3 separate regions of the Homo sapiens genome follow, and all the other regions are linked to region 1. Evidence: fine-mapped expression QTL. A gene starts in region 1. Each other region holds a variant in brackets. All regions are shown on one strand. Distances are between the middles of the regions. Region 1 holds the start of PLD6 (phospholipase D family member 6). Region 2 overlaps MPRIP (myosin phosphatase Rho interacting protein). Region 3 has its middle 16 kb from the start of LINC02090.

What was found.
Region 2: its variant is fine-mapped to the expression of PLD6 in Th1 cells (Schmiedel 2018, PIP 0.95). The same link has a PIP of 0.9 or more in Th1/17 cells.
Region 3: its variant is fine-mapped to the expression of PLD6 in lung (GTEx, PIP above 0.99).

The regions. Positions count from the first base shown.
Region 1 is chr17:17,202,800-17,210,940 of GRCh38, forward strand. It overlaps PLD6 (phospholipase D family member 6), which reads right to left and starts at 3,534. Exons shown (of 2, transcript NM_178836.4): 1 at 3,061-3,534; 2 at 1-299. The coding sequence starts at 3,487. RefSeq lists enhancers at 2,553-2,672, 3,728-4,567 and silencers at 3,193-3,312, 3,333-3,382, 3,503-3,752, 3,793-3,842.
Region 2 is chr17:17,147,086-17,155,261 of GRCh38, forward strand. It overlaps MPRIP (myosin phosphatase Rho interacting protein), which reads left to right. Exons shown (of 24, transcript NM_001364716.4): 11 at 234-302; 12 at 3,059-3,148; 13 at 7,221-7,330. Among named protein-coding and RNA genes, the nearest start is that of PLD6, 55 kb to the right of the region's middle. RefSeq lists an enhancer at 3,256-3,335. The variant C/G (reference allele first, on the strand shown) is at 4,552.
Region 3 is chr17:16,999,843-17,008,018 of GRCh38, forward strand. No RefSeq gene overlaps it. Among named protein-coding and RNA genes, the nearest start is that of LINC02090, 16 kb to the left of the region's middle. RefSeq lists an enhancer at 4,892-5,420. The variant G/A (reference allele first, on the strand shown) is at 3,122.

The sequences.
Region 1 (8,141 bases):
TCTGTGCCATGAAAGCAATCTCCCTCCAGCTCTGGAGACAGGTGGGGCACAGCTTCCGTGACTTTTCTTTGGTGGGAAAAAGGTATACTTTGTAGGGTTAAACTGTTCCCAGATGCGCTCAAATTCTTCCAGAAAAAGCCGCACGTACTCGTCGTCCTCCGTGATGAGAACATTCTCCCTGTTGTTCTGGATGGCTTGCGTGGTCCAGTTGAGCGAGCCAGTGATGAGCACCCTCTTGTCCACGATGGCAAACTTGTGATGCATGTAGCCTGGGTCTTGATCGTGCCGGACCTGGATCCCTGCAGAAAGGACAAGGTGATTTCATTCCATGCAGGAGTCCCGCCCCCAGTGTGGACTGTTCCTGGGGGCTACTGGCTTTACTATATGTTTCCAGTTTGGTGGGCCAGGAAAGCCCGCCATGCTTTCACAGAGTGGTGGCGGCTAAGCTCCCAGGAGGGACGCTGAGAACCACAGAGGGGACATCACACACAGGGCCAGAGCGTCACACACAGGCTATGGGGGACTGGGCAGGCCGTGGTCTGGGTGAGGCCACACCTCCGAGTCTATGCCAGCCAGTATGTCCCTTCGGGGTTACTGCTTGCTGCCAAGGCTGTCACTAACCCAGTCAGAGGTGACCAGGGCAAAGACAGCGTGTGAGCCTTCAGGTTCTGACTCTTCCACAGCTAAGGCTGAGAGCGTGCCCACTCTGCCCAGAGAGGCCCCGGCGTCTGAGAGCAGAGCCCAATTTGCTGGCACAACCTCGGCCACCAAGGCAGGAAGGGCCCTAACTAACAACGCACAAATGAATTCTCCTCTTCCGCACCCCCCTGCTTCCTTCACCAAAGAACCAGGCATCCCGGCCTCTGCTCTTCCCAGCTTTCAAACTCCTCTTGGGAAGGGCCTGTGTCTGTCTCCCCTGGAATAACACTGCCTCACTCACGACCTGCTTAAGGAATGAGGCCGTCAGAAATGGGGCTTAAAAGAAGTTTTAAACAGGCTGCCATGGAACACAGTTGCCAGATTTTCCGAATCAAAATACAGAACATCCAAGTTAAATGGAATTTCAGATAAAGAGTAATCTTTGAAGGGAAGTGTGTCCCATGGAGTACTGGGAACATACCCTAAAAATCACTCCCTGTGCATGGAACTCATATTTAATTGTGCCCCCTAAATTGGGCCTGGCAGGATGAAGACGTGGTGGCTTCCTTACCTCGAGGAGCCAGCCCTTCTTCTCACACTCTGGCCACTCCTCTGGCACGTCCTGTCGGCACAGCCCTCCAAACACATTCCTCCACACGGTGGGCAATGTAAAACCCCACCATCGCCCACACCTCCTGCCTCCGCTGGGATCCACTGCCCACCTCCCCGTCCCCTCCCCGCGGCCTGCCACCTCTGGCCACAGGGGACTTCCTGCCCTTCCTCAAAAGGAAGTCAGTCTGTGACCCAGGGCGACTGTGCTGCTGCCCCTTCCAGCCGCATGCCTCTCCCTCCGAACAGTCCACTGGTGTCAGCAAGGTCCCTGCCCTGAGTGTCACTGCCCCTGGGCAGCTGACCTGGCCCACGCCACTTCCTCCCACACCACTGCCTCCTTACCCTGCTTTATGAAGTTTTCTTGGCCCTTCTCAGTGCCCTAAATGAAATATTCATGACTTAGTTGGCATCTCCGTGGCAACCTGGCCTTGTGCCCTTGTGCCCTAGGATGTTCCAGCTCCTCACAAATACTGGCACAGAGGGGACATTCCTTGAACAGTGAATGCCACTGGACAGCCTCGAAGTCAGCGAGGATGCTGGGAGGCCATCCCAGAGGGGATCCGATGGGACCTTGGTCTAGGGGCCCTTGAAGGGTCTTCACCAACCTCAGCTTCTACGACTGTAAAAGCAACTCAAACAGAACTGTACTGTGCATGCCTGGAGGTCCCCAAACCTCCCGTTAAAATGACCAACACATGGGAGGACAGCTCTTGTGGCTGCCCCAAAGAGAAGGAGACATCCTCAATATGAAAACCACGTGCCCCACTCTGCTCCCACATGGCGTGCAACATGCCCCACACCACCCAGAGCAGGGAGGGACCCTGGCTGACTCTGGAGAGGCTGCTCTGAGGCCCAAGTCAACAAGAGGCTATGGCTGTGCAGAAGGAACAGCGCGGCGGTGACCACTGCCCAGCCTGGACAATTCCCAGGGCTCCACACATCTCTCGGTCACTGCGACCACCAGTATTATCAGATCCAACCGTTGCACGTGCAGGCGTGACTTTCTGGGTGCCTGAGTGATGGAGACAGAGACAGGCCCAAGAGTCTGTGAGTGCAGATACACAAAAGGCAACAGCAGGCTGGGCCGCCGAACTGGGCCAGGATGGACTGAGAATCCTCAGGTGGGACAAGGATCCCAATTATTCACATTTCCTGGTCCCTTCTGTCCCCACCCCATGAGAGAGGCGCCCCCGCCAGAAATATGTGTTCCCCTCCTTTTGCAGCTGGGAAAACAACCGAATGTCCTGGCGCTGCTTTCTAGAACATGTTCAGGTCTCCCAGAGCCCAGTGGCCTGAGATTCACTGGGCAGCAGGTGGCCGCCTCTCCCCAGAGCCCTTCAGTCTGGAAGTCCAAGCACAACCCTGGCGTCCAGCTCCCCTGCCACCAGGATCCAGGTTACCAGAGGCCGTCCGGGGATCTCCGGCAGCGTAGGAGGGCGGGCCCGGGCTGCAGCAGTCACGAAAACTCCGCCGGCGGCGCCCGAGGAGTTGCTAGGGGAATCTGCTCCGCCTCTAACCCGGCACACGCAGGCCCACCTGCTTCCAGCATGCCGGGACAGTTCACTGAGAGAACCGCCCCCACCGCGGAGGCACCGAGGGTCCGGCTCGCTTATGCCCACGCAGCCGGCTAGACCTTCTGTGGGGGCTCTGCTTTCTCCGCGTTACACCACCCCGACCCCACAAGGCCACGAGGAAAGTAAATGAGGCCTCAGCCCGTCCCCAGACCCCCTCCCCTAAGTGTCCACCTTTGCGCCTAGGACCCCGCGTGGGCCAAGCCGGCCTTCTCCGCTTGGACCCCGCCGGGCCTACCTGCCTTGCGCAGCAGACCGATTTGCGAGCCGTTGAGGGCCATGTAGTCGCAGTCGGTGACGACCCGCACTCGCACCCCACGCTGGTGCAGCAACTGCACGGCGCGGCCCAGCTGCGGGCTGGAGAAGGCGAACAGGCAGAGATCCAGGCTGGCGCGGGCGGCCAGCAGGGCACGCAGCAGGCGGCTTAGCGCGCTCTCGCCGTGGGGCAGGCCGCACGGGCAGCCCTCGGGGAGCTCGGCCAGCTCCGCGCCCGGAGCCCGCAGCAGGGCCTCGGTACAGGTCACCTGAGACGGGAAGAACAGCGCCTCGCGCCGCGGCCGCCGCCGCCTGGACCGCAGCCAGCGCAGCACCCAAGGCAGCGCCTCCAGAGTCAGAGCCAGGCCCACAGCCGCCGCGGCCGCCACCTGCCAACTCAACCGTCCCATGCCGCCGCTAATCCGGGACCCACAGCCACGCCGCCGCAGCGGAGTCTGCGCGCCCCCAGCCCTAGACCGCCAGGCCACGCCCCCGTCACGCGCCGCCAGCGGCCATGTGCCAGGCCACGCCCAGCCCCCCATGGCCACGCGCCAGGCCACGCCCTATCACGTCCTGCCAATTGCCACGCACCAGGCCACGCCCCCGTCACGCAGCGCCAACGGCCACGTGCCAGGCCACGTGCCAGGCCACGCCCAGCACCCATGGCCACACGCCAGGCCACGCCCCCGTCACGCCCCACCAACGGCCACGTGCAAGGTCACGCCCTCAGCCCCCGAGGGCCACGCGCTAGGCCGCGCCATGCCCCCACAACTGTCACGCACCAAGCTGAACCCACGCCTCCCATCAGCCCGCCCCCAACCCTCAACAGGTGACCACGCCTCCCTCCACGCGCCAGGCCACGCCCCCTGCCACAGACACCCTCCACCCCCCAACGCCAGGCTGTGCCCCCCATTTTCCTTCCAGCCAGGCGCTCGGCCACGCCCTCCAGGTTCCACCTCCCACCACGTGCCAAGCCACGTCCCCAAGCCCGCGCCACCAGGCAGCACCTGCACACCCGCGGGCCACGGGCCCTAGCACACCCGTCACCTGCCCAGGCCAGAGACCGCTCTCCGCGCTAGAAGCCACAGCAACCCCGGCTTTCCTCGCATGGAGCACAGCAGAGCTGCTCTGGAAATGTGGGGTCACACCTTCACTGTCTTCTCGGGAGCAGCTAGGCTGGGCTGGGGAATGACCTGGGAACACAGATAATCAGGGAATCAACACAGCTGGAGGCAGCATTGGAACCCAGCATACTGGAGGCGGTGTCGGCCCAGAGGTTTTTTCCTAGCCCAAGAGGTTTTTTCCAGCCGGCGTTGTTGGAAGGCCTGCCCTGCTTTAAGCATAAACAGAGGAAGAGACTAAGGCAGCCGAGGGCACTGGGCCGGGGGCATAGGGAAACGGGGCAATGTGGTGGTCTGGGCTGGATCCTGGAACCGAAAGAAGACATTCACGGAAAAACTGGTGAGAGCCAAATAAAGTCTGGAGCTTAATCGCATTGTACCAATGTCAGTTTCTTAGCTTTGACAAATGTATGAAAGGAATGTAAAAGGTTAACAAAGGAAGCTGCGTGGGGGTAAATGGATCTCTCTGTTCTATATTCGAAACTTTTCTGTAAAGCAAATTATTCTAAATTAAAAGTTTATTAAAATATTAAACTTGCACCTTCCATATGATCCAGCTATCCCACTCCTAGGAGAAAGGGCGGGATCCATTAACACAAGCACGTGTCCTGGCAGGCGTATGTGCCTAGAACAACCCAAAAAGGCGTCAGCAGGTAAACAGGTAAATAAGCTTTTGTATATCTGTACAAGGGAATGCTATTTAGCAATAAAATAGAATGAAGTGGCCTGGCACGGTGGTTCATGCCTGTTATCCCAGAACTTTGGGAGGCTGAGGCAGGAGGACAGCTTGAGTTCGGGAATTCGAAACCAGCTTGGCCAACATGGTGAAACACTGTCTCTACCAAAAAATACAAAAATTAGCTGAGTGCGCTGACGTGCCTGTGATCCCAGCTACTCGGGAGGCTGAGGTGGGAGAATCGCTTGAGCTCTGGAGACTAAGGTTGCAGTGAGCCAAGATCATGCCATTGCACTCCAGCCTGGGTGACACAGCAAGACCCTATCCCCCCCCCACCAAAAAAAAAAAAAAACAGTACTCACATGTGCTACGACGTGGATGAATTTCATTAATATTGAGTGGGAAAAGCCAGACAAAAAGAGTACATACTGTATGATTCCATTTACATAAAATTCTAGAAAATGCAAACTAGATTGAGGGAAAGCAGACCAGTGTAGCCTGGAGGCCAACAAAGCCACAAGGAAGTGGAGTGATGGATGTGTGCTTATCGGGTTGACTGTGGTGGTTTCACAGGTATATACATATGTCAAATTGTATGGTGTAAATAACTAAAAATGTATGTCAGTGATTATGTCAATAAAATTCTTTTTTTTTTTTTTAAGACGGAGCCTCGTTCTTTCGCCCAGGCTGGTGTGCAGTGGTGCGATCTCGGCTCACTGCAACCTCTGCCTCCGGGGTTCAAGTGAGTCTCTGCGTCAGCCTCCCGAGCAGCTGGGATTACAGGCGCCCACCACCACACCCGGCTAATTTTTGTATTTTTAGTAGAGATGGGGTTTCACCATCTTGGCCGTGCTGGTCTCGAACTCCTGACCTCGTGATCCACCTGCCTCGGCCTCCCAAAGTGCTGGGATTACAGGCGTGAGCCACCGCACCCGGCCTTCTTTTTTTTTTTTTTGAGATGAAGTCTCGCTCTGTCGCCCAGTCTGGAGTGCAGTGGCACGATCTCGGCTCACTGCAACCTTCACCTCCTGGGTTCAAGCAATTCTCCTGCCTCAGCCTCCCAAGTAGCTGGGACTACAAATGCACACCACCACATCGGCTAAATTTTTGTTTTTGTATTTTTAGTAGAGACGGGGTTTCATCGTGTTAGCTAGGATGGTCTCGATCGCCTGACCTCGTGATCAGCCTGCCTCGGCCTCCCAAAGTGCTGGAATTACAGGTGTGAGCCACCGTGCCTGGCGAATAAAATTCTTAACAAAGAAAAAGAACACTTGAGTTTAGTGCTGGCTCCCAGGCTTCCTAGCTGCATGGTCTAGGGCAAATTGATTCATCTCTTCTGAGCTTCACTTTCCTCATCTAAAACGATAATGAGAGGAGGGACTTGGAGTTGTGGAGGTATAAAGAAGGACTCAAATCCCTCCAGAGAGGGATAAACAAAAATAAAACTGGGGGAAAACAGTTTTCAAAAACAGCCACTTCAGGGCTGGAAATCTACCAAAGGCAGACAACAAAATGAGAAGCTTTATTTGATTTTTATTTATTTTTTGTCTTCCAGTTTCTATTTTTAACTTTGTCGGTATATAGTAGGTATATATATTTATCGGGTACATGAGATATTTTGGTACAGACATGCAATTTGTAATAATCACATCAGGGTAAACAGGATATCCATCACCTTAAGCATTTATCCTCTTTTGTGTTACAACATTTAGTTATTAGTTTATTTATTTATTTATTTATTTGAGACGGAGTCTTGCTCTGTTGCCCAGGCTGGAGTGCAGTGGTGCGATCTCAGCTCACTTTGCAAGCTCTGCCTCCCAGGTTCACGCCATTCTCCTGCCTCAGCCTCCCAAGTAGCTGGGACTACAGGTGCCCGCCACCACGCCCAGCTAATTTTTCGTATTTTTAGTAGAGATGGGGTTTCACTATGTTAGCCAGGATGGTCTCGATCTCCTGACCTCACTATCTGCCCTCCTCGGCCTCCCAAAGTGCTGGGATTACAGGCGTGAGCCACCGTGCCCGGCCTAGTTTTTTATTCATTTATTTTTCAGATGGAGTCTTGCTCTGTCAGCAGTGACGTGATCTTGGCTCACGGCAACCTCCGTCTCCCAGATTCAAGCAATTCTCCTGCCTCAGCCTCCAGAGTAGCTGGGATTACAGGCACCCACCACCACGCCCGGCTAATTTTTGTATGTTTAGTGGAGACGGGGTTTCACCATGTTGGCCAGGCTGGTCTCGAACACCTCACATCAGGTGATCCGCCCACCTTGGCCTCCCAAAGTGCTGGGATTACAGGTGTGAGCCACCGTGCCTGGCCGTTTGTGTTTATTTTTTATTTTTTGAGACAGAGTCTCGCTTTGCTGCCCAGACAGGAGTGCCATGGGGCCATCTCAGCTCACTGCAACCTCCACCTCCCTGGTTCAAGCGATTCTCCTGCCTCAGCCTCCTGAGCAGCTGGGATTACAGGTGCCTGACACCACGCCTAGCTAATTTTTGTACTTTTAGTAGAGATGGGAGTTCACCATGTTGGCCAGGCTGGTCTCGAACACCTGACCTCAGGTGATCCGCCCACCTTGGCCTCCCAAAGTGCTGGGATTACAGGTGTGAGCCACAGTGCCTGGCTATAATAACCATTTTAATATGTGTGTGTATGTCATTAACATCATGTCGTATACCTTAAATATATACAATTTATTTTTTAAAAGCTTATACAAACTATATTATCAGATAAGGGGTTAATTTCCACAATATATAAGAGCTCAAGTGATTCTCCTGCCTCAGCCTCCTGAGTAGCTGGGACTACAGGCGTACACCACCAGCCTGGCTAATTTTTTTTTTTGTATTTTTAGTAGAGACGGGGTTTCACCATGTTGGCCAGGCTGGTATCAAACTCCTGGGCTCAGGTGATCCTCCTGCCTCGGCCTCCCAAAGTGCTGGGATTACAGGCGTGAGCCACCATGCCCGGCCCTGAGTGTAAGTATCTTGAATGTAAAATCAGGAAACCCTTGACTGCCTTCAAACACATGGGGAAGGTTCAAGATCTGGAACTTGTTTTCTGTCTCTTCCATTTTGTGAAAAGCTACAAAATCAGGAACCCCTATTCCCTCACAAGGACAGCAGAGTCTGGCCTGGTCTTGGGCTGGCATAGGTTCAGCTCAGCCTCCTGCTCTTCTGCACTCATGACCAATAGGAAAAATCTTCAAGAACTGCATGCCTGTGGGGAGAAAAAGCCCACAGCTGCCTAGAAACACCAGTTGGCAGCTGGGT
Region 2 (8,176 bases), 56 kb before region 1:
TGCCTCTTCACTGGAGGGTCACAGCTTAGTGAGCGTCCTGAGGGTGTGAGCGCATGGCTGCCTGCAGTCCGAGCAGAGTCCTCTGTATGCTGTCAAGGGAGGGGCCAGCCTGTCCCCTGCTTTCCCTGTGCTCTGGGAGGGCCCCACAGGCTCTGGCTGCGCACCGCCGTGGCGTGGCAGGCATGCTGTATAGGAGTTGGTAGTCGAGTCATTTTTCTTTTCTTCCCCTTTAGTGGAAGAAACACTGGTTTGTCCTCGCCGATCAAAGCCTGAGATACTACAGGGATTCAGTGGCTGAGGAGGTGAGTGTCTGGGCTTTGCCTCTGCTGTGGAGACAGCTGGAGGGGTCCAGGCGGCATCTGGGGCTAGTAGATCTGCTTCCCCCTGGGCTAATGTCCCCACTTCTGAGGACAGCGCCCTTCGGTGGTGTTACCTTGCCGAAGGTATGTCCATGTTGCCCTCTTGGGTTTCCCAGTCCCGACCTGGTGGGAAGGTGAGCACAAGACCAGCCTTTGTCCTTGTGATCATTTTCCTGGCTGTGATGCTGGGCTTCGTCAAGGCCTTGAATTAAGTGCCCAGTGCAGTGGGTTTGGGCAGCTTTTCTTTTCTCTGTTCTTTGAAAAACACTGAAATTTGAAAACTCAGGATGAACAATTTTGTTTTTTCCACAAAGAGATTTCATGGTAAATGGAGTTGGAAGAATTGAACTACATCTTGTGCCCTGCCTTCTGGACAAGGACAGGATAGGATAGATGAGCTTTTTTGGGCCCCTGGACAGTCCTGATTCTGTGGTCAAGGACCAAATAGAAGGGGTTCTTTTTTTCTTCACCTACAAATAAAATAACCTCTTCTAAACAGTTTGGCAAGTCTCCTTTGCCTTTTCCCCAGTAGTTTCACTCCAGGAATCCCTCAGATAACTCCCACATGTGGAAAAACGTCTGTTTCAGGTTAGTCATTCCCACACGTTTGTAACAGCCAGATGATTGGAAAGAGCCTAAATACCCATCATTAAGGGCCGGGATATGTATTAAATACTCTGAGCCAGTCTTTACAGACTGAAGGAGAAAAGGTGGTAGTGATAAGAAGTAGGGGTAGGAGAGTGTGGGCGGTGGGCCTCTGGTGGTGTCCAGCGTTGGGGAAGTAAGGAGCCTATGTAAGTGTTTGGTTGCATGTGCATAGAAGAGCACTTCCGAGTGTGGTCTGTAGACCTCTGGGGGTCCCTGAGGCCCTTTCAGGAGAGCAGTGGTGGTTAAAATAATTTGTAATATTAAGATGTCATTGACTTTTTTTTGCGTGTGACCATCTGCACTGATGGTGCAAAAGCAATGGGAGGTAAAGCCACTAGCACTTGGCACAGCCCCATCTGTAGCAACAGGCTGGACCAGTGGTCACTGGATTCTTCACTGCCATACATTTTAAATAATTAATCGTTTTAAAATAAATAAGGTCCTTGAAAGAGCAGCAGAAGTTACTAATTTTATGAAGCCTCAATCTTTAAATGCCCATCTTTTTAATATTCTGTGATTTGAAATGGGAAGTAAGCATCGCCTGGCTGCATACTAGAGTGTGCAGGCTTTCTCATGGAAAGGACTTGTGTGATTGAGTTGCCAGCTGAACTAGCAGCTTCTTTTGGAGCACCACGTTTACTTGAAAAACAACTGATAGGCAAAACTGTGGTCATTAATTTTGGGTGTTTGGCATATATTTTCATGAAAATGAACCAAGTTGGCTCATTCCTCTAAGGAAAACAACTGACAGAATTTGTTGCCAGTGATATAATTTGAGCTTCCAAGCAAAAATTAGAACTTGGGAAAATTTGTATTCACCATCATGAACTTCCCTTTACTTACACTCTCCTGATGAAATAGGTGGTGGTATTAGCAAAGGCGATATTTTAATATTACATAATGAAATGTGTAGACAATTGGAAGCTGTGCATAACAATATTTTCCATGTGACCAGTACCTAATGTTACAAAAGCATGCCTGGGTTTTAATGTAACACAGTACAGAGAGTTCATGGGCATGATTTCAGATACCACATTGCAGTTAACCTTTAAGAGCCTACTGCTTGTCAAAGAACAGCCACAACTACCTGAAAAAGCTATTAAAAATACTTCCTTTGTTGTCCGGGGGCGGTGGCTCATGCCTGTAATCCCAGCACTTTGGAGGCCAAGGCAGGCGGATCACCTGAGGTCAGGAGTTTGAGACCAGCCTAGCCAACATGGTGAAACCCTGTCTCTACTAAAAATACAAAAATTAGCTGGGCTTGGTGGTGGTCATCTGTAGTCCCAGCTACTCGGGAGACTGAGGCAAGAGAATCACTTGAACCCGGGAGGCAGAGGTTGCAGTGAGCTGAAATCGTGTCACTGCACTTCAGCCTGAGTGACAGAGCAAGACCCCATCTCAAAAAAAAAAAAAACTTCCGTATTGAACAGATGGAATGCAGAAACAAGAATCCAGCTGTCCTTTCTGAAGACAGATGTTAGAGAGATTTGCAAAAATTCAAAGCAATGTGACTCTTATCACTGATTGTTAAATCAGATTTTTATTTTAAAATGAATTTATTTTATTCTCAAATGAACAAATATATTTAAATTTTACATTTATATTAATATATATTTTCATATATATTTAAATGTATAAAATATATTTTATAATATATTTTAAAATATATTTAAATATTTTTAAATTAAAATTTTTAAAATATTTACATTTTAATTTCTAACATAGTAAATACCATCAATAGATGAAATCCACCTAACAGAAGCTCTTCTAGGGCCACCAGTTTTTAAGAGTGTGAAGGGATTTCAACAGCAGCATGTTTGAGGACCACTGGCGTGGACTATCTTTGGCTGGATACAGGGACAGATGGTGGTGTGATTGCACCCAGTGAGGGGCCTGGGTCATGCAGTAGTAGGATAGACGGTGTCCTCACTTGTCAGTGTGTATACTATTAAAAGTAAAGTCAGTGCAGAAAATCACTTACGGAAATTTGCTCATCTAGGCATTGGTTCTACTTCCTAAAAATCTCAAGACATTCTCACTTCCCTCGGCAGGCAGCCGACTTGGATGGAGAAATTGACTTGTCCGCATGTTACGATGTCACAGAGTATCCAGTTCAGAGAAACTATGGCTTCCAGATACATGTGAGTCCAGGGATGGAAGTGGGGCCACAGGCTTGACAGGCAGGGATGCATGTCAGAGTGCCTAATGTCTGGGCTGGGGGCACTTCTGGACAGGCCTGATGCAGCGTGTATGGTCAGCACTTAGTCTTTCCCACTACCCTTGACACCTCTGTCCTGTGGCACCTGACCCTATTCCCCAATTTGTGATGTGAACAGTACATTAGACGTTAGTATCTTTTTTCTGAAGACTGCTTAAAGCTTTTTTGTTTCTGAAGGTTCCTTTTTTCTTTTGTTTTTTGTAATGCTGGAGTTGGGGCAATTGGAAGGATGTGGGGTATGGGGAATAAGAATGAAAGTGTTAGTCAATTATTTACATCCGCTTTTTACTCACTTATTCATGTGTTTGTTCATTCATTTACTTACAAGGCTATTTTTTCCCAAAATCTTGTGAGGTACTCAGATGAGCAAGGCATTGCACTGTTCTCAAAAAAAAAAAAAAAAAAAAAATCTTATTGGTAGGACAAAATGGTTCTTATTGGCTGTTTCTTCAAAACTGTGTGGATCAAGGACTGCCTGCAGTCAGCCAGACTCCAGGTTAAGAGCACAGTCCTCCTGACTGCCACATCTGCCTCCATTTCTTTTTTTTTCCCCCAAGACAGGGTCTCACTCTCTGTCCAGGCTTGAGTGTAGTGGCACAATCATGGCTCACTGCAGGCTCGAAATCCTAGACTCTAACGATCCTTCTACCTCAGCCTCCAGAGTAACTGGGACTACAGGTGCATGCCACCATGCCCAGCTTATTATTATTATTATTATTATTATTATTATTATCATTATTTAGAGAGACAGGGTTTCACCATGTTGCCCAGGAGGGTTTTGAACCCCTGGGCTCCAGCGATCCACTTGCCTTGGCTTCCCAAAGTGCTGGGATTATAGGCATGAATCACTGTGCCCAGTCCTGCCCCCACTTCTGACACCAGTTGTGAGTCCGGAGGTTTCCAAAACCACCTTCAGTTTCAAAAATTCACTAGAATGACTCACAGGATTCAGGAAAGTACTGTCTTTACAATGAGTTTTATTATAGAGAAAGTATGTAAGTCAGAACCAGCCAAGGGAGAGCCATGTGGAGTAGAATCTGGGACTGGGGGAGTCACAGATGCCAAAAGTTTCTGCATCCTTGGGGACACGGTGTCCTCTTAGCCCTGATGTGGGGCAGTGCGCAGAGCATTGCCCGGAAGCCCACCTGAGCCCCGGTGTTGAGTTTTAGGAGGCTCTGTAGCTGCTGTGGTTGATGGAGTTGTTGTCCTCATAGTTGAACTCCACCTAAAGCCCTTCCCGCCATGGTTGGCTACTTTCACATGGCCCAAACCCCAACCCTCTGATTTAATGGGTTTCCTCTAATTTCCTGCTTCTGGCCAGGCCAG[C/G]CTCTACCCTGAGTTGTCTTGTCAGCATGAAGTGTTAGGTGGGGTCCCAGGGTACCACCATGAGTAACAAAGACTCTAGTCATTCAGGAAATTCCAAGGTTTGGAAGTTACCTCCCAGGAGCTAGGACAGAGGCCAGGCCTCTCTTTGGGTAAAGTTAGTTCGTCACTCGCAAGGGCTTTAAGATGGGTGGAGAGTGTGATGAGTAGAGAGCTGCCCCCATGGGGCTGGGCCCTGGCCCTGGGACTTGGTTCTCACACAAGGCTAGACTCTGGTGGGCTCACCTGTAGCAGGGTCATACCTTCAAATTTTGGGGCCCAGAAACTCAATTTTATTGCTGTGTTGAGAGTTGATCCAGTATTTGGGGCTCACTCAGTTTGGCCCAACTTAGAGGAGACTGAAGTATAGACCCAAAGGCCAGTGTGTTCATTTACTAAGAAAATCCTGGCCGCCAGCCCACTGGGCTGCTGGCTGTGGCTTCCTGCGTGCAGGCATCTGCGAGAGGAGCTGAGTCACAGTTGGAGGCTACACTGACAGCCTGGCACCAGGGCCGGGTGTGAGTTGTCTGCTCTTAGTGGCCTGCACTGCCCAAGTTTCAAGGCTCCTCTGTCCTCATCCGCTGTGGGAGGGGTAGGCGGGCATAGTGCCCGGTGAGCCTCCTCTCCTGCCGTCCACCTCCCATCTTCATGAGCAGCTTTCTCCAGGCAGGGCACACCTGAAGTCTGAGAACTCACCCCGCTCTCCTAGTGACAAATGAGGGCATCAGCCACTCTCACCCACTGATCAACCCCTCCTCACTTCACCCTGGTAGGGCTTATCCTGATGACTTTCGGTGATCCCCAACTACTGAGAGTTCTAAGGAATGAGGAGATGCTTCCAGTGTGGAGAAGGCTTCCTGGGGGAGGCTTCCTGGAGAAGGATCCCTCAAGGCTCAGCAGGAGGGATGAGTGTGAAAGCATGTCCCAGACTGGACTCCAGACCTGGTGGCACAGAGAGCACAGAGCCAGTCTGGGGCTAGAGTGCTGGGTGGAGAGTCAGGTTGGCGCTGGTCCAGCCTTTGTGGAGAGCACTGAAGGGTGTTAGAAGATGCCAGTCAGTTGTGCGTTCATGATACATGTCTGGCGGGACATGCAGGTCCATTAGAAAGGAACCAGGCTGGCACGGTAAAGCTGGGCAAGAAAGGAAGGAGCAGCACCTGGGAGGAAGAGGTGAGGGCAGGGCCAGGACCTGGCAAGAAGGCCCCGCCCACTGAGAAGCCAGCAGAAGAGCTGACTTCACAGAAGCAGGGGGATCCCCTGGAATTCCGGCTGTGATCCATTTGAGGCATGATGGGCTCTCAGAGAACATTAGGCAGCCGCTGGGAAAGAAAATTCAGCTGGAGAAAACAGCTGTATGTGGAGTGCTGAGGCCAAACTCCAGCAACGCCCACACCTGGGGGTGGAGAAGGATGGACCCAGGAGAAGGTGGTACCCCCCCAACTCAGCTCACATGGATATGAGAACTGATGAAGGAGGACCGAGCTGGGCAGTGGTGGTGTCTTGATCGGGCATGTGGAGGGGCAGGTCAGGTCCCTCCCAGCTGTGCTTTGTGGCACGTCAGGCCGGTGCGTGATCTCCTGTTTTGGCTTCTGGCCAGGCCACTAGCACCCATCCGAAAACCATCCTCATGATTGCATCCTGCCGTCAGCTTCCCTACTGACCTGGCTGCTGAGTCTGCTTGTGAGCAGCTCTCGGTTCAAGGCTGCAGCCCTCGCTTCTGTTGGGCAGGTGCCTGTAGGTGCAGAAGCAGGCCTCCAGCTCCATGCAGGCCACTGGCCCTCCCCTGCCTGGTACCCAGGCAGGTCTGCTCAGGGGCGCAGTGGTCATGTCCCAGAGCCATGTGCTCTTTGCTGCTTTGTCCTACCTGCTGCCCCGTTCCTCGCCCAAAACAGGCTCCTCCCCTGCTACCTTGCACAAGCACCGAGGACAAGCCCTAGACTCCACCTCATCCAAGCAGGAGTCTAGGGCTTGTCTAGGTGCTCCCCAACCCAACCAGCCAGACGCTGTTCATACCCCTTTTGTTACTTCTGAGCTGCCCTGTCCCCTGCCATCACCTTAATTCTCATCACTTGGACAGCTGCAGTAACCACCCAGCAGGTCTCCCTGCCTTTTCTCAGTGCCACCAACAAGACCCTGATACCCCTTGTTCTTAACCACTCCCTGGGCCCATCATGCCATGTGCCTGTGTGAGTGCAGACTGCAGGTGCCACTCCCCACGCCCAACACACACGCCCTTCCGGATTCCCCACCTCCACCACTGCTCAGCACATGCTGATTCTGCCCTTCCCCCGAGGCTGGGAACTCCTTAAAGAGGGGTGCAGCATCCTCCTCTGTCTGAGTGGACAGGCTGCTGGTGCGTAGTGGGTGCTCAGTAACTGTGAGCTTGTTACTGAGAGAAGATACCGGATTTACCATTGCCACAAATACACGTCCCTCCCACAGCTTTGACGTCTCCTGCTCTCCAGCTCCCTCATGTCCCAGTAGTGGGCACATGTGGCACTCCTAGAAGGGTCACCCAGTCACAGCCTTTCTCCCTGTGGGACTTTACCCAGTGCAGGGAGCTTCTTTGGAGATGGAGGGCAGCAGGCACCCTAGGGGACAGTCACTGATGGTGCCTCATCTTTTCTCTGTAGACAAAGGAGGGCGAGTTTACCCTGTCGGCCATGACATCTGGGATTCGGCGGAACTGGATCCAGACCATCATGAAGCACGTGCACCCGACCACTGCCCCGGATGTGACCAGGTAGGATGGTGAAGACACCAGGGAGCCCTTTGTGCCTCTTGTGGGTGCCACTCCCGCCAGGGCAGTGTCAGACTCAGGTCTGAAGTCTGAGACCTGAGCTCAGTGCATCCCAGTCTGCTGCTCCTTCCTTCCTGTGTCCTTCTGTTGCTCAGGTTCCTGTCCCAAGTAATCAGAACAAACATTTCTGGTTCTTTTCTCTTGTAAGCCCAAGCGTTTCATCTTGCAGGTAGCATGTGTGCTGGTCATTAGAACTGGGCTTTGGTGGAGAATCTTCCATCTGTGTCAGCAGGCACTTGGCCAGACCAGCCTGAGCCCCGCAGTCGGTGCTCTCAGGCCTTGGGCTCTGCTGCTCTAAGGGTGGCCCCATGTGCGGCATCCATAGGCCACCCAGTGCTTCTTTGTCTTGGCCTTCTTTTCACCTCACTCCTACGTCTGTTTGATTTCTGTGCAGCCAATTTGAAAAACCCTCTCCTGTTTTTGCATTCTGTGGTTCATGTGTCTCAGATTTTGCTTTGGGCTTTTTTCCTCCTGCCCTGAAGGTTAAAGACCTAGTTCTCATTTTAAAAGATGGAGAATCAGAAGACTCAGACATATCTAAAACAAAACAAAACAAAAAAAGCAGAGAAGATTCCAGTGTGGGGGCTGGTCCTTTGATGGCCAGAACTCTGCTGTCCCCACCTTCAGAGCCTCCACGCATCTGAGCACCTCTGGTGCCATTTCTCAGGTCATGTGATGTAGATTACATCTCGAATGTGTTTCTTGTGCTGTGGGTTAGGCTGCTTGGGTGTGGCAATGTCACAGCGGGGGCTGTCCATGGAAGCTTTGACCTAAAAGCGTGTTCTTTTT
Region 3 (8,176 bases), 200 kb before region 1:
AGGGCCACTGGGCAGCTCAAGACCAGACACTGGAACATTGCTTTAGACACTTCCACGTGCCTGTGACCCTGCTGGGTGGCAGAACACAGCCCAGAGCTGCCAAAAGATGTCCCCCACCCCCGCCTCCTTGATCTCACCTGGGCGTGTTACTAGTGGATCCTAACCCTGGAAGCCATTGCAAGGGAACCTGGAAATGTAGCCTTCAGCTTCCCAGTCCCTGCTGGTCAGGAAGGCACAGGAGGAGGAGGTGGAAATGAGTGTGGAGGGCCACATATCAGGCCAAAGCAGCAGGCACTCAGAACACAGCGGCCTAGAAGCAGGGTACAGGAAGGGATGCCCCTCAGCCACACCAGCCTTCAGGGCCCCAGGCAGGCTCCCTCCTGCCAAAGGTCTTTGTGTATGTTGTTCCTGCCTTATCAAGTGTTCCTCCCTATCCTCTCTGCCTCCACATAGCAAGGTAACTTCCACTCAGCCAAAAACTATCACTGTCCAGCACAGCCCAAATATCCATAAACAGAAAACATCAACAAATGACAGTATATTCATACAATGAAATACTATACAGCAATGAAAAAGAATCACCGACGACCACATACAACAATATGGGAGGATCTCACAGATGTCATTGTTGAGTGAAGAAGCCGGACTCAAAAGAGCACCATTCACAAACCTCCATTACTAGGAAGCTCAAAAAGAAGCAGAATTAATCTATGGCACAAGGGTAGAGAAGAATGGTTACTTCTCGGGGGGTGGGGGGAGTGTTGGATGGGAGGGGACAAAGGAGCCCTCTAGGGGCTGGGCACGAACTTGGTCTTCTCCAGTTTGGTCTGGGGGCTGAGCCTGAGGCACCCATGGGTAAAACTTCATCAAGCTGAACACTTAAACTGTGCACTCTTCCTATGATGAAAAAGTAAAAATAAAACAGACCCCTTTCTCTGAGAAGCCTTTTCCCAGACTAGAGCACCTTCCCCAGGATGAGCTGCCAGGGTTCTGTGCACCCCTCCTGCCAGGCTATTGTCGTGCTGTGACGGTCTGTTTCCCTGTGGGATGGTGAGGTGGTCTGCTCCCCCAGACAGTAAGCTCCATGCAGGAAGTCTCTCTGTCTTTCCAGGGCCTGTATGTCCAGTGCTCAGATCTTAAGCATCTGCTGCAAGCGTGGGTGACCCCCATCGTGGAACAAGCCCACTCTCTGGCAACAGCAATGTGAACCTTCTGCTTGTAATGTAAATGTGAAACCCAGGGCCAGTAAGAGATTCCTCAGATTTGCTGTGCAGCCATGGAAGGCAGGTTTTTCAAACAGAAACTCTTCTTCCTAAAAATATTCGATGTTCAAATCTTTTCTCTGCAAAAAAGACGGAGGAGGAAGAAGTGAAGTTGCTGTGCGTGAGCCCACCTGGAGGGCAGCAGCCCAGGAAGGGCCAAGGGACTGACAGCGACAGCTCAAGCATTGCAGCACCTGGGCCTCCTGCTCTCCCAAGCCAGCAGGATTTTCACTGACTCCCAGATGGCAGAGCCAAGCCAGTGAGAGACAGATGTTGGCTCAAGTGGTTTTGAGAGCTGATGAGTTCCCTGTCCCTGGAAGTGTGCAAGTAGAGACTAAAGGACCACTCCTGAGAAATATTGTGAGACAAGCAGGGGTTGGGACTGGAAGGATGGCCCTTGGAGGACCTCAGAGACCCAGGCCTCTTGTGTCTGTGTCCTTTTGGAACTCTTGGTCTTCGCCGAGGGAGGGATGCCCTCCAGGCTGCCTGGGACCACATAAGGTCTTGGGAGACAGGAGCAGCAGTAGCAGCTTCGTGTATGAAGGTGCTCCCAGTGCTGGGCACTGTAGGGAGGGCTATCCTACCACATCCTCTCAGCGAAGGGCTTTTGTAGAGTATGGTTAAGAATGCAGATCTGCAGTGGGTCACGCCTGCAATCCCAGCACTTGGGGAGGCTGAGACAGGAGGATGGCTTGAGCCCGGGAGTTCGAGGCTGCCTACCCCCTGCACCCCAGCCTGAATGACAGAGCGAAGAGAAATCCTGTTGTCTCTTTATTTGAAAAAAATTTTTAAGTAGGTTCTGGAGCCGGAATGTTGCAGAGAACCAGGCGCCGGCGCCTCCCAATGGTCACCAGCAGGTGGCGCCGCTGACCTAGGTGCTGGGCCCCTCGGCACCCCTCGTTCTGGGTGGCGCTGGGAGGAGCCAGTTTGGGCGGAGAGGAGCCCTGGGCCGCCTACCCTGGACTGAAGTCAGGTGTTGAGCACGGGTGGACCCGGCTTCTTTACCTTCCTGAGGCCTTGGTCGAGGGGCTGGCTGCCCGCCCTGTGCAGAGGACTTTGTCCCTGGGGTGGGTGGGTGCAATAAATGTCAGGGCTCTGACCCAGGGACAGAGGGGCACAGAGGGTAAAGGGTCCCTCACTCTCCCCTGGCAGCGGCCGCTTGTCACAGTCTAGGAAAATATCCAGAGACTGTGCCGGGTGGGGGGTTTTGCAAACCAGTCCAGTGGGTCGAAACCAGTCCAGCCGCCCCACTGAACAGATTCTGCAGTGGGTCACACCTGCAATCCCAGCGCTTGGAGAGGCTGAGGCAGGAGGATGGCTTGAGCCCAGGAGTTCGAGGCTGCCTGCCCCCTGCACCCCAGCCTGAATGACAGAGCCAAGCAAGACCCTGTTGTCTCTTTATTTAAAAAAAAAAAAAAAATTATTTTTTGTTTGAGACAGATTCTCGCTCTGTTGCCCAGGCTGGAGTACAGTGGCGCGATCTCGGCTCACTGCAAGCTCCGCCTCCCAGGTTCACGCCATTCTCCTGCCTCAGCCTCCCGAGTAGATGGGGAAAAAAAAAAAACTTTTTTAAGGTAGGTTCTGGAGCCCGACTGTCTGGCCCAACTCCAGCTTTGCCACTGTCTCGGGCAGGGCTCAGAATCAGACCCCAGAACAAGGATTCCAGAGCAAGTGCTTGGCTGGGGAGATGCAGGAAGCCCCAGGGGAGGGCACGAGAGGCAGGGAAGGGAAGAAGCCAGTAAAGTATGTGTTATCAAGGCAGTTACCAGGGAAGCACCAGGCTCCCTGCTGTGGGGAGCCCTGGGAGACAGCGTGGAGCAGGCCCCAGAGGTTGCCCCGCTGAGGAGCAAGGGGCTGGA[G/A]TAGTTGTCCGCCACCCCCACAGCCACTGTTGGCTGAGACCCTCTCCTGGGACAGGGACTCTCCAGGCCTCCAGCGGTGGAACTTGCCCGTCCTTGCAGCTGGGAGAAGCAGCCCAAGGATCCTGCTCAGGCGTCCCAGGCTTAGACGTGAAGAGGCGAGTCCTGCATGGGGAGGGTGGGTGACTGATGGATGGGACACCAGCTGTGTCCTCTGCGGCCACTGGGCAGCTGTGTGACCTCAGGCAATTGCTCAGCCTCTCTGTGTCTTCTCATCCTCCTTTGGTAGGAGGCTGCCTAGGCCCAGTGAAGGTAGAGGGCCTAGAACTGCGCCTGACACAGCACTACGCATGCCAGGATCTCAGGAGCCCAAGAGGTAGTCCTGTCACACCCCGTTTCACAGAGGAGGATGTGGAGGTCAGAGTGGCTAAGACAACTGCTCAATGCCACTGGGCACCAGAGGGCAGATGGGGCTTGGGGGACCCTGATCCCACACTCACAGGACCCCTGTCCAGTGCGCTCCTGTGGGTAGATCAAGGCAAGGCTGCCTCTAGGACCACCTCCCTCTTGCCCCGCACCAGCCAGGCATCCTCTGGGCAGGGACCATGGCAACACGGCCCCCACCTGTGGCCGGGCCTTCTGGGTCCTCTCCAGGAGGTGTCTAGGCACCACGCTGTGGCATCAGCATCACACACAATGCTGAGATGAAAAGTCTTACGCAGGTGTCTTCGCACACCTGAGCAAACATTTCTACAGGAATAATTTCCCCCAGCGGGATTCTTGGATCAAAGGGAAGCACACATGATTATTCTAGAAGTTGACAGCCATTGTCCAATTGACACCCTCACCCACAGGGCTCTTTCCCCACATCCTTGGCAATACCAGGTCCTTGTTTTTAAATCTGTGCCGACCCGATGGGCAGAGAGTGGCACCTTGTCATGCTGTCTCCTGCCTGTTTGATCCAGGATTTTGTGGACCGTGGGTTTGGCAGCTGCTGGCACTTCTTCTGCACGTTCCCTTTTTGTGTCCTTTTCCAGATTGCTATTTCTTTGGGGCTTTTTTCTTAGTGATTTGTAGGGTGCTTTAAAATAAAATCTTCTGTCTGCCATGGTCTGTAGGTGACAAATATTTCTTCTCAGCTAATTGTTTTATTTTCAGCCATGTTGGTGGGGACTTTGTGATTGTTTTGTTTTTTGTGATTGGTCTTTGGAAGTTGCTCATGTTTGTGTAATCGGATTTGTCATTCTTTTCCTTTGTCATTTCAGAGTTTGTGTCAGGAATTCTTCCCTCTTCAACCCATTCCTCCACCTCCCTCCGCAGACTGGCCGGTGTTCTCTCTAGATCTGCCTCTCCCTCCATGCCATGCTCTCGGGCCCTTCGTGGTGAAGCCAGGTGGCCGTCCTCCTGCCCCTGCCCCTGAAGGAGAAAGCTCCAAGACCTGCTGTATTCATGTCCCCTTCCTGGAGGCCCACCTTCACGTGCCCACCTACCTCCTCAGCATGCCTGAGCCCCTATCGCTTTCCTCTCGCAGCAGCCTCAGGTGCAGAGCCCGGGGACTCTGGTCTGACACCGATGGCTTCTTAACTACAATCAGCACACCTGCTGCTCACCACCCTTGGCCAGGCCAAGCCACAGCCAGGCCCAGCCCTGGATTCGAGATTGTTATTTCTGCAAAATGGATCATCCAGGCATCTCTGGCTTGTCTCTGGCCCCCCCGCACCCCTCCACCACGCCCCTGGGCTGCTGCTGCTGATGTCTCCTTCCTGCCTACATCGGACCCAGTTCCCCCATGTTCATCCCTGGGGCTGGGCCACCTGCTGCTCCCCCTGGCTCATCCACTGCCCGTTACCAAGCCGCACACAGCTCATCGACCTACAGCCACACTTGTCACACCTCCTTGCAGACCACGAGTCCAGAGAAGCACGTGATGCAACCTCCCACACCTGACTCTTTTACAAACCAACAGGCCACTGGGAGGCTGCTCTCCTTGTCTCTGGGGTGGCAGCAGGGGAAGCAGGAGAATGAACAGCCTCCAAAACTTCTCCTCAGACGGAGCCGCCATGGAGGAACAAAGGGTCACCATCAACAAAGTCCATTTAGCCCAATCAGCCTCCTGCCCAGCAAACCAGGGAGGCATGCTCTGCCCTCAGCCCTCAGGTCCCAGGGGCCCGGCCCTGGCAGCCTCTTTGTTATTCCTGGCTCCCGGGACCAGGACTCTCAGGGTGCCCATGCCAGGGAGGCCTGCATGGCCGGGAGCAGGTATTTCCTTCTGTGCCCTCTGCGGGCTCAGGAAGACCCCACCCTGCAGGTGGCAGGAAGGGGCTGTGTTGAGCAAGGGGCCCAGCAGCTGGAGTGGGCCTGGGTCTAACTCTCCACTCCTGTTTGCATTGGCAAAGCACCGCAGCTGACACGGGCTGCGGGAGCACCACGCTCAGAGGAGCCGGCGACGGCTGTTTCCCAGCTGCTGTGCAATTTGCTGAGTTCAACACACATGTATTGACTGCCCACTGTGTTTTCTGTGCTCACTTGGAAATTCTGTTGAGCGCCTACTATGTGCTAGGCACTTGTCTGTGTGCTGGGGATATGGCCTGGGGCAAAGGTGTCAGTTCAGCTCCCCTGGGAAGTAGACAACAGGTTGGAGTTAGAGATACAAGAACTGTGTTAGGAGAAGGAGCTGTAAAGGAGAAAGGGGCGAGGGGCAGAGCAGTCAGGGAGAGCATGGAGCGCACCAAGCACAATGCTTGTGAAGGAGAGGGGCCACTGGAGAGCTGGGCGGGGGAGCCTCACCCGGCCCCAGGGGGTCTCTGGAGCAAAGATGGCCAGTACTGGGGTCCCAGGTTGGGCAGGATGATTTGAATGTGGCGGAAGATCCCCAAGTAGCTGGAGGCTGTCAGCTGACTGCACTTCTTGCAGAGGCTTCTCTCTTGAAGGCCGACCTGAGAAGAGCACCTCCATGGTGGCCACGGGAGATTAAATGCAGCTGCCATCCTGTGGAGGGGATGGACAACACACCAAGCAGCAACTGCACCCCCTTCTAGAACAGAGGCCCCAAATGACAGTGCTTCAAGAGAGGTGGGAGCTGGCTGTGCACAGTGGCTCATGCCTGTAATCCCAGAGCTATGGGAGGCCGAGGTGGGAGGCTCACTTGAGGCCAGGAGTTCAAGGCCTGCCTGGGCAACATAACGAGACCCCATTTCTACAAAAAATACCAAAAAAAAATTCAGCTGGACATGGTGGCATGTGGCTATAGTCCCAGCTACTCAGAAAGCTGAGGTGGGAGGATTGCTAGAGCCCAGGCTAGGCTGCAGTGAGCTATGATGGTGCCACTGTACTGCAGCCTGGGTGACAGAGTGAGACCCAGTCTCTTAAAAAAAAAAAAAAAATTATTAAGGGGAGGGCAAGCCCTTTTCCATACTTTCTTAACCCTGCTGTTTAGGATGTGGACATGATGGTGCACTGTCTTGAGCTACATGGACAAGAGAAACACCCTAGGGATGGGAGAGAGAAGGGTGGATCCCTGAATAACTGCATGGAGCAGAGTTGCCACCGCAGCCCTGAACTGCCCTGCCACCCCTAGACAGTGTGCTGGAGAAATGAACCTCTGTCTTGTTAAAGCCACTGTTGTTAGACGTAGCTAAACCTAGATCCTAAATACAAACATAGCATGTTCTTTTTTTTTTTTTTTTTTTTTCCTGAGGCGGAGTCTCACTCTTCGCCCAGGCTGGACTGCAATGGCACAATCTCGGCTCACTGCAACCTCCACCTCCCAGGTTGAAGCAATTCTCCCACCTCAGCCTCCCAAGTAGCTGGTATTACAGGCGTGCGCCACCACGCCTGGCTAATTTTTGTATTTTTAGTAGAGACGGGGTTTCACCACATTGGCCAGACTGCTCTCGAACTCCTGACCTCAAGTAATCCGCCTGTCTCAGCCTCCCAAAGTGCTGGGGTTCCAGCCACTGCACCCCTCCACACATAGCGTGTTCTTTTTGTCCACATAAAACTTACCATCTTGACCATCGTGAAATGCACAGTTCAGTGGCACTAAGCACAGTCTCATTGTTGTGCAACCATTACCATCGTCCATCTCAAGAACTTTTTCGCCGGGTGCGGTGGCTCACGCCTGTAATCTCAATGCTTTGGGAGGCCAAGGTGGGCAGATCACAAGGTCAGGAGATCGAGGCCATCCTGGCTAACACGGTGAAACCCCGTCTCTGCTAAAAATACAAAAAATTAGGCGGGCGTGGTGGCGGGCGCCTGTAGTCCCAGCTACTCAGACGCTGAGGCAGGAGAATGGCGTGAACCCAGGAGGCGGAGCTTGCAGTGAGCCGAGATAGGGCCACTGCACTCTAGCCTGGGCGACAGAGCGAGACTCCGTCTCTTAAAAAAAAAAAAAAAGAACTTTTTCATCTTCCTCAAATTGAAACTGTCTCCAATGAACAGTAAACAGTAACTCCCCATTCCCCTTCCCTTAGCTCGTATAAGTGGAATCATATAGAGTTTGTCTTTTCACGGAATATTACGCCCTCACGTTCTTCCATATTGTAGCATGTGCCAGAATTTCCTTCCTTTGTAAGACTGAATAATATTTCATTGTACGCACAGACCACATTTTTGTTTATCGATGGTCATTTGGGTGGCTTCCACCTTTTCGTTGTTGTAAAGAATGCTGCTATAGTGAGCTGAGATCACGCCACTGCGCTCCAGCCTAGGCAACAGAGTGAGACTCCGTCTCAAAAAAAAAAGAATGCTGCTATAAACATGGGTGAACAAACATCTGTTGGAGACCCTGATCTCAATTATTTTTGGGGTATTTTTTGGTATATACCCAAAAGCGGAATTACTAGATTATATGGTAATTCTGCACAGTGACTTTTCCACTAGTGTTTAACATGGTGTCTTGACAGAATAGCTGTAAGATTACACTGAAAAAGCAGCAGGGGAAGTGCTGTGAAGGCGGCCCATGAGCTTGTAGGAAAGGCGGTCAGCAGCACACCTCCACTGTAATGGGTTTGTTTACCCGCTAGCCTACCAACAGCTGCAGGCCCCTTTCCTGGCCCT